Linked DNA regions of Homo sapiens. The protein of the gene in region 1 interacts with the protein of each later gene in a pairwise test. Each region holds a gene or a part of one and is shown on either strand. Other genes may lie near its edges.

Region 1 (3,658 bases):
CATTTAAAGACATTCACTCAGGAAATATCAAGGAGGGTCAGAGAGGTGGAGGAGGATCTGATTCTAAGGCATTCATTGTCATGAGAATTTTATAATAAAGGACTCTCAGGAATGCATCCTAATAGGACCTGTATTTCCAGGAGTAAAGTACTGCTGTATCTGTTAGCATTGCTTTGTCTTTGGAGTCACTTGGTATTGGTAGATCTCATTTTTTTTGAATGAGAAATAATTTTTCATTATACAGCTAAATGTTTTTGGTACAATGGGGGATTTTATATTATCTTTTTCCCATTACCCATACAGATAACTGTATAATACAATTATCACATCTGAATAGGGTTCTTTTGTCCACATTTATTTTATTTGCTCCTAGTAATCCCTCTAAGAGGTCTTCATGCAGGTTATTTTTAACCTCGGTTTACCTACGGAGAGATGAAATGGGGTGGTGTCAATATCTGAACACATGCATGTCAAGTAAGGTGTGGACACGTGGATTCAGGTGTCTCCTGTCCACTGGGCGGGCTACCGGGCTGGCTTCAGATGTGGGTTCATCTCACCTGGCTGCCTGACTTCTACAAACAAAGGCCTGTGAACGTGGTGGGCCCAGGACCTTTGATACCTTATCAGAATACGGCTCCTCCGTGAGATCGATGCCTTCAGCGTGCAGCTTGTTTTCAGTGAGCGTTTCTAGATCCACTCCCCGGGCACAGGAGACCTTCCTGGTCAAAGCCGGGCCCAGCTTCACACCGTGCTCCTGGAGGCTTGTGTTCTCGGGGAGCTCTGAGAGCCAGGGGGGCGGCCTTGTGCTTGGTGGGCTGCCAGGCGCCTGCCCTGAGAGAGGCCTGGGAGCCAGTGCTGGGGGACAGTCGCTAGGGCTGGTGGGGCTGGCGGGGCTGCCCCTTTTCACTGGCAGGCATGGCGCATCGGGACTGGGGAGGGCCCCACTGGGGCCCATGGGAACAGGGTGGAGTCCGTTAGCAAGGCGTTCTCTGCTCTTTTTGGCAGGAACAGGTGGAGGCTGTGATGGAATTTTGGGCTGCATTCTCTGCTCAGCATCTACCCCTTCTTTGGTGCCCAGGGGATGGTGTGTTCCTTCAAACTCGTGTCCTTTTCTGTGGCCCTCCAGAGGCGTCCTTGCTAAACCGTGTTTAGCTCCAGGAGGCTGAGCATCATAGTTTCTGGGCAAACACTGAGGGGGTGACAGGCCGCGACCAGAGGCTGCGATTGAGCCCTCCAGTTTCTTAGTTGTCAATTTCTGAGGTTCAGAAAATCTCTTGCTTTGGGTCAGTAGCAATGCATTGTCGACAGCAGAGTCTTGCTCCAGGGGCTGGGCCTTCGTGGAAGAGGCGGTCGTCTTCTGTGGCACTTCAGGTACAATCTGAGGGGGCGGTTCTGTCACCTCGGTAGGCACGTCTTGCTCAGCACCAGGCTCCACTTGAAGGTCATCCAGGGAATGGGATCGGGGCCAAGTGTCCACAGTCTGGGGGCCCTCCAGGGTCTCACAGCTCCGGCAGATGGAAACTGGGAGGCTTCTTCGGTTTTTATTCAAACCAGTCACACCAGGTGGGTCACAGCTCTTGGACGTGTCTGGGGCAAGGCCACCACCCAGCCTGCCCTCCTCCTGTCCCTGCTTCAGTGCATCCCCTGATTTCATTAAAGGCAATGTTGGGTAATTGCCCAACTGGTTTCTGCTAAAAGACTTCAAGCTGGGCTCGGTGGATGACTTGGCAGATAGGAGGCTAGCTTTCCGAGTCTTGCCTGTGAGACAAGGGAATATTTTACAATCACATTTTAAAAGCAAATCAATCAAACGGATGCATAAAGTTGTGCTAACATAATTGAAATCTCCAACACCCACATCCTATTGTTCAATTACACTAAAAACATAAAATCACCATTTATGACATCGGGTGATAGAGGGTTATTATGGTTCCATTTTTATTTTTAGAAAGAATTCTTAGTCTTATTAAAGGAATCATGAAGACTGAAATTAATTGGGTTACATGGGAAAGAAATACGCTGTGTCAAGCAGTAAAATAAATCTTGGCTTAAGTCTGTGCCCCACTGCAATCGACGTGGAAAGAGGCTGATCATCATACCGCATATTGATGAGATTTGTTGGGTGAGTACAATTTCTCAAGGTCATGATGGAAAAGGAGAGCTGGACTGAATTTCACAACAGGTTCTATAAATGGTATCCCCTACAGAGTGATCTGTGAATACTCAAATCCCACCTTCCCTGAAGCCCCTCCTTCTAGTAAGTTTATCCTAGAAGCAATCAACCAACCTGGACACAGACAGGTAAACTTTTGTGAGTACTTTGCCAAAGAAAATCTACAAAATACTGATAAAGTTTTAGGTCCCAGCAAAGCAACAGTCCTAGTTACAACTGCCAGACTGATAACTGAACTATCAACCAGACATAATCTACTTATCTGACGACTGGTAGTTGATACTAAACTGCTGCTGTTGGATAAGCTTTGCCAAGAACTTACAATTCATGGGCCAGACAATGTGCTGAATGCTTTGTTCTCATCAGTACTTACATGTGCGCGCGCACACACACACACACACACACACACACACTGTCCCTTGTTACATTTTTGGTTGATAACATGTTTGTTGTGTGCTTTGACCCTGTCCACCTGTATGTTCCACACTGATAAACACCAACATGCTATGCATTTGTAGGATATTATTGTTGTTACATAAAGATCATCAGCCTAGTGCTACTACTGAAGATATTGACCATGGTCCTACTTTTCATTATTAGAAAAATCATCACAACTTAAGGAGGCCAAGGCAGGTGGATCACGAGGTCAGGAGATCGAGACCATCCTGGCTAACACGGTGAAACCCCGTCTCTCATAAAAAATATAAAAAATTAGCCGGGCATGGTGGCAGGCGCCTGTAGTCCCAGCTACTCGGGAGGCTGAGGCGGGAGAATGGCATGAACCCGGGAGGTGGACCTTGCAGTGAGCCAAGATCGCGCCACTGCACTCCAGCCTGGGCGACAGAGCGAGACTCCGCCTCATAAAAAGAAAAGAAAAATCATCACAGATAAATGAAGAAATACCTCTTCAGAAAAAAAAAATTGCATCAGATTTTAAAAGTGGGTTGAAATAGAAAATTATTAGAACCTCTTTAGCATAAATTTAGAAATATGACTTTCTTTTCCCTTAACTCCCAATATAAAACTATATATATAAGTTCCATTTTTGCATTCTGCATTACATTAGAAAGATCCCTGAACTTACTTTGAGTTCAAAGTATGGTTCGCTAGCAATCTAGTTCTTCAGCAGGTACACCTGAATTCATTTGGGCATGAAAAATTCTGCCAGTGATATCTGTGAGATCCTTACCAATCACCAACAGTTGGGGGAATTAATTTCCTGAAAAGTTTTGGATATGAAAAGGTTATTAAGAGAAAAAAAAATTCTTCAGAACCTACATGAGCTACATAAGGATTCTGATGTTTACTGAAACTGAGGATGTACTGGGATACTAGGTGAGTTTTGCATCCTGTCTTGACCGAGGCTATCTGAATATTATATATAGTTTGGGGAGAACTACTATCTTCCCAAGTTGATAGAAAACCTTGAATAGCAGGGCATCATGGCTCAAATTCTGAGGTCCCCAAGATGCTTCTTAGAATTGG
Region 2 (3,658 bases), on another chromosome or scaffold:
TATATAAATATATATATAAATAAATATATATAAATAAATAAATATAAATATATATAAATATATAAATATATATAAATATATATAAATATATAAATATATATATAAATATATAAAAATATATATATAAATATATATAAATATATAAAATTTTTTTTTTGAGACGGATTCTCGCTCTGTCGCCCAGGCTGGAGTGCAATGGCGCAATCTCGGCTCACTGCAACCTCCGCCTCCAGGGTTCAAGCGATTCTCTTGCCTCAGCCTCCCAAGTAGCTGGGATTATAGACACCCGCCACCACGCCTGGCTAATTTCTGTATTTTTGTAGAGACAGGGTTTCACCATGTTGGCCGGGCTGGTCTCAAACTCCTGACTTCAGGTGATCCGTCCACCTGGGCCTCTCAAAGTGCTGGGATTACACGTGTGAGCCACCATGCCCAGCCAGTATTTTTATATACTAGTAATTAATATTCCAAAAATAAAATTAAGAAAACAATGTCATATACCATAGCACCCAAAAAACCCTTAGGTATAAATTTAACAAAAGTGTAAGAATTATACACTGAAAACTACAAAACATTCTCGAGAAAAATTAAAGAAATAATAAATAAATGGAAAGACATCTCATGTTCATGGATCTGAATACTTAATACTGTTAAGATTACAATATTGCCCAAATTGATCTACAGATTCAATGTGATCAATATCAAAATCCCAGCTGGCTTTGTTTGCAGAAATTGACAAGCTGACCTTAAAATGTAGAGGCATACCTCAGAGATACTGTGGGTTTGGTTCCAGACTACTCCAATAAAGTAAGTATCACAATAAAGCAAGTAACACAATTTTTTGGTTTCCCAGTGCATATAAAAGTTATGCTTACACTATACTGTAGTCTATTAAATGTATAATACCATTTTGTCTACAAAAAGTATAGACTTTAAGAATACTTTATTGCTAATAAATGCTTACACAGAGACATGAAGAGAGCATATGCTGTTGAAAAAATGGTGCCAACAGACTTGCTTTATGCAGGGTTTCCACAAACCTTCAATTTGTAGAAAATGTAATATCTGTGAATTATAACAAAGCAGAGTGCAGTAAAACAAAGTATGTTTGAATATGGAAATGCAAGGGACCCTGAACAGTCAAAACACTCCTGAAAAAGAACAAGGCTGGAGGACTCACACTTCCTGATTTCAAAACTAACAAAGCTATAGTAATTAAGACAGAATGGTACTAGCATGAGGATAGATATATAGAACAATGGAACAGTATTGAAAGTCCAGAAATAAATAAATAAATGCTTAATTACGGTCAACTGACTTTCTTTTTTTTTTTTTTGAGACAGAGTCTTGCTCTGTTGCCCAGGCTGGAGTACAGTGGCATGATCTCAGCTCACTGCAACCTACACCTCCCAGGTTCAAGGGATTCCTCTGCCTCAGCCTCCTGAGTAGCTGGGACTACAGGTGTGCACCACCACACCTGGCTAATTTTTGTATTTCTAGTAGAGACAGGGTTTCACCATATTGGCCAGGGTGATCTCGAACTCCTGACCTCAGGTGATCCACCCACCTCGGCCTCCCAAATGCTGGGATTACAGGCATGAGCCACAGCGCCCGGCCCTGACTTTCAATAAGTATGCCAAGACAATGAAATGGGAGAGAAAAGCCCTTTCAACAAATGGTGCTGGAACAACTAGATATCTGCATCCAAAACACTGTACTTGAAACCCTACCTCATACCATACACAGAAATTAACTCAAATGGATCATAGACCTAAATGTAAGACCTAACACTATAAGCCTCTTAGAGGATCTAAGAGAATGAAACATGCGTCCACAAAAGAAACTTGAATATGAATGTTCACAGCAGCATTATTCATAACACCCAAAAGTAGAAATAACCCAAATGTCCATCAAATAATGAATGGATAAATAAAATGTGGTATATTTATACAACAGAATATTATTTGGTCATAAAAAATGAATAAAGTATTGATACATGCTACAACATGGAAGACTGTTGAAAACACTATACTAGCTTTGGCAACACAGCAAGACCCATCCTTATGAAAAAATTTTAAAAAATTAGCCAGGTGTGCTAGCATGCAACTGAAGTCCTAGCAACTCAGGAGGCTCAAGCAGGAAGATTACTTGAACCCAAGAGGTCAAGGCTGTGAGCTATGATGGCACCACTGCACTCCAGTCTGATTGACAGAAGAAGGCCTTATCTCTAAAAAAAAAAAAAAACTAACAAAACACACACATGCACACACACACACACACACATATGAAGAAAGCAGTCACAAAAGGCCACATTATTCCAACATTATTTCATTTATAAACTTATATGAAAGGTCCAGAAAAGGCAAATCTAGATACAATACCAAAAGTAAAATAAACAAAAGAAAATACAATTAAATTGGGCTATATCACAACGGAAATCTTTTGTGCTATAAGTAATACCATCAAGAAAGTTTAAAAACAACTCAGAATAACAGAAAGCATCTTCAAATCATGAATCTCATGAGAAAGTGGTATTCATAATATATTAATATAAAGAACTCTTAAAACTCAGCCGGGCACAGTGGCTCACGCCTGTAATCCTAGCATTTTGGGAGGCTGAGGCGGGTGGATCACCTGAGGTCAGGAGTTCCAGACCAGCCTGGCCAAGATGGTAAAACCCCGTCTCTACTAAAAATACAAAAATTAGCTGGGCATGGTGGCACATGCCTATAGTCCCAGCTACTCGGGAGGCTGAAGCAGGACAATCACTTGAACCCAGGAGGCAGAGGCTGCAGTGAGCTAAGATCATGCCATTGCACTCCAGCCTGGGTGACAGACCCAGACTCTGTCTCAAAAAAAACTCTTAAAACTTAATTATTGGCTGGACATGGTGGCTCATGCCTGTAATCCAAGCACTTTGGGATGCCAAGGCAGGTGGATCACCTGAGGTTAGGAGTTCAAGACCAGCCTGGGCAACATGGTGACACCCCATCTCTACTAAAAATACAAAAATCAGCCGGGCATGGTGGCGGGTGCCTGTATTCCCAGCTATTCGGGAGGCTGAGGCATGAGAATCGCTTGAACCCAGGAGGCAGAGGTTGCAATGAGTCAAGTTCACGCCATTGCATTCCAGCCTGGATGACAGAGCGAGACTCCAACTCCAAAAAAAAAAAAAAAAAAAACAAAAACAAAACAAAAAAAAACTATATATATACACATATGTGTGTGTGTGTGTGTATGAAATATATATATTTCATATATATACGAAATATATACATATATATATATATGAAACAACCCCATTTTAAAATGGGGTAAAGGATTTGTATAGATATTTCTCCAAAGACATACAAATGGCCAATAAGCCCGTGAAAGGATGCTCAACATCATTAGTCATCAGAGAAATATGCAAATCAAAACTATAATGAAGTACCATTTCACACTCGTTAGGATGTCTATGATAAAAGAGACAGGAAATAACAAGTGTCGACAAGGATGTGGAGAGGCCGGGCATGGTGGCTCACACTTGTAATCCTAGCACTTTGGGAGGCTAAGTCGGGCAGACTGCTTGAGCCCAGGAGTTTGAGACCAGCCTAGGCAACATGGTGAAACCCCATCTCTACAAAAAACACAAAAATTAGCCAAGTAGGGTGGCATG

What was found.
Region 2: the proteins of SASH1 (region 1) and KIF3B interact in a two-hybrid assay, tested with the Homo sapiens proteins (one large-scale study listed by BioGRID).

What each region holds. Positions count from the first base shown.
Region 1 is NC_000006.12:148,541,780-148,545,437, reverse strand, and holds part of SASH1 (SAM and SH3 domain-containing protein 1), read right to left. Parts: intron 1,759-3,658; coding exon 620-1,758; intron 1-619. UniProt on the Homo sapiens protein: Is a positive regulator of NF-kappa-B signaling downstream of TLR4 activation. It acts as a scaffold molecule to assemble a molecular complex that includes TRAF6, MAP3K7, CHUK and IKBKB, thereby facilitating NF-kappa-B signaling activation.
Region 2 is NC_000020.11:32,319,107-32,322,764, reverse strand, and holds part of KIF3B (kinesin-like protein KIF3B), read right to left. Parts: intron 1-3,658. UniProt on the Homo sapiens protein: Microtubule-based molecular motor that transport intracellular cargos, such as vesicles, organelles and protein complexes. Uses ATP hydrolysis to generate force to bind and move along the microtubule. Plays a role in cilia formation.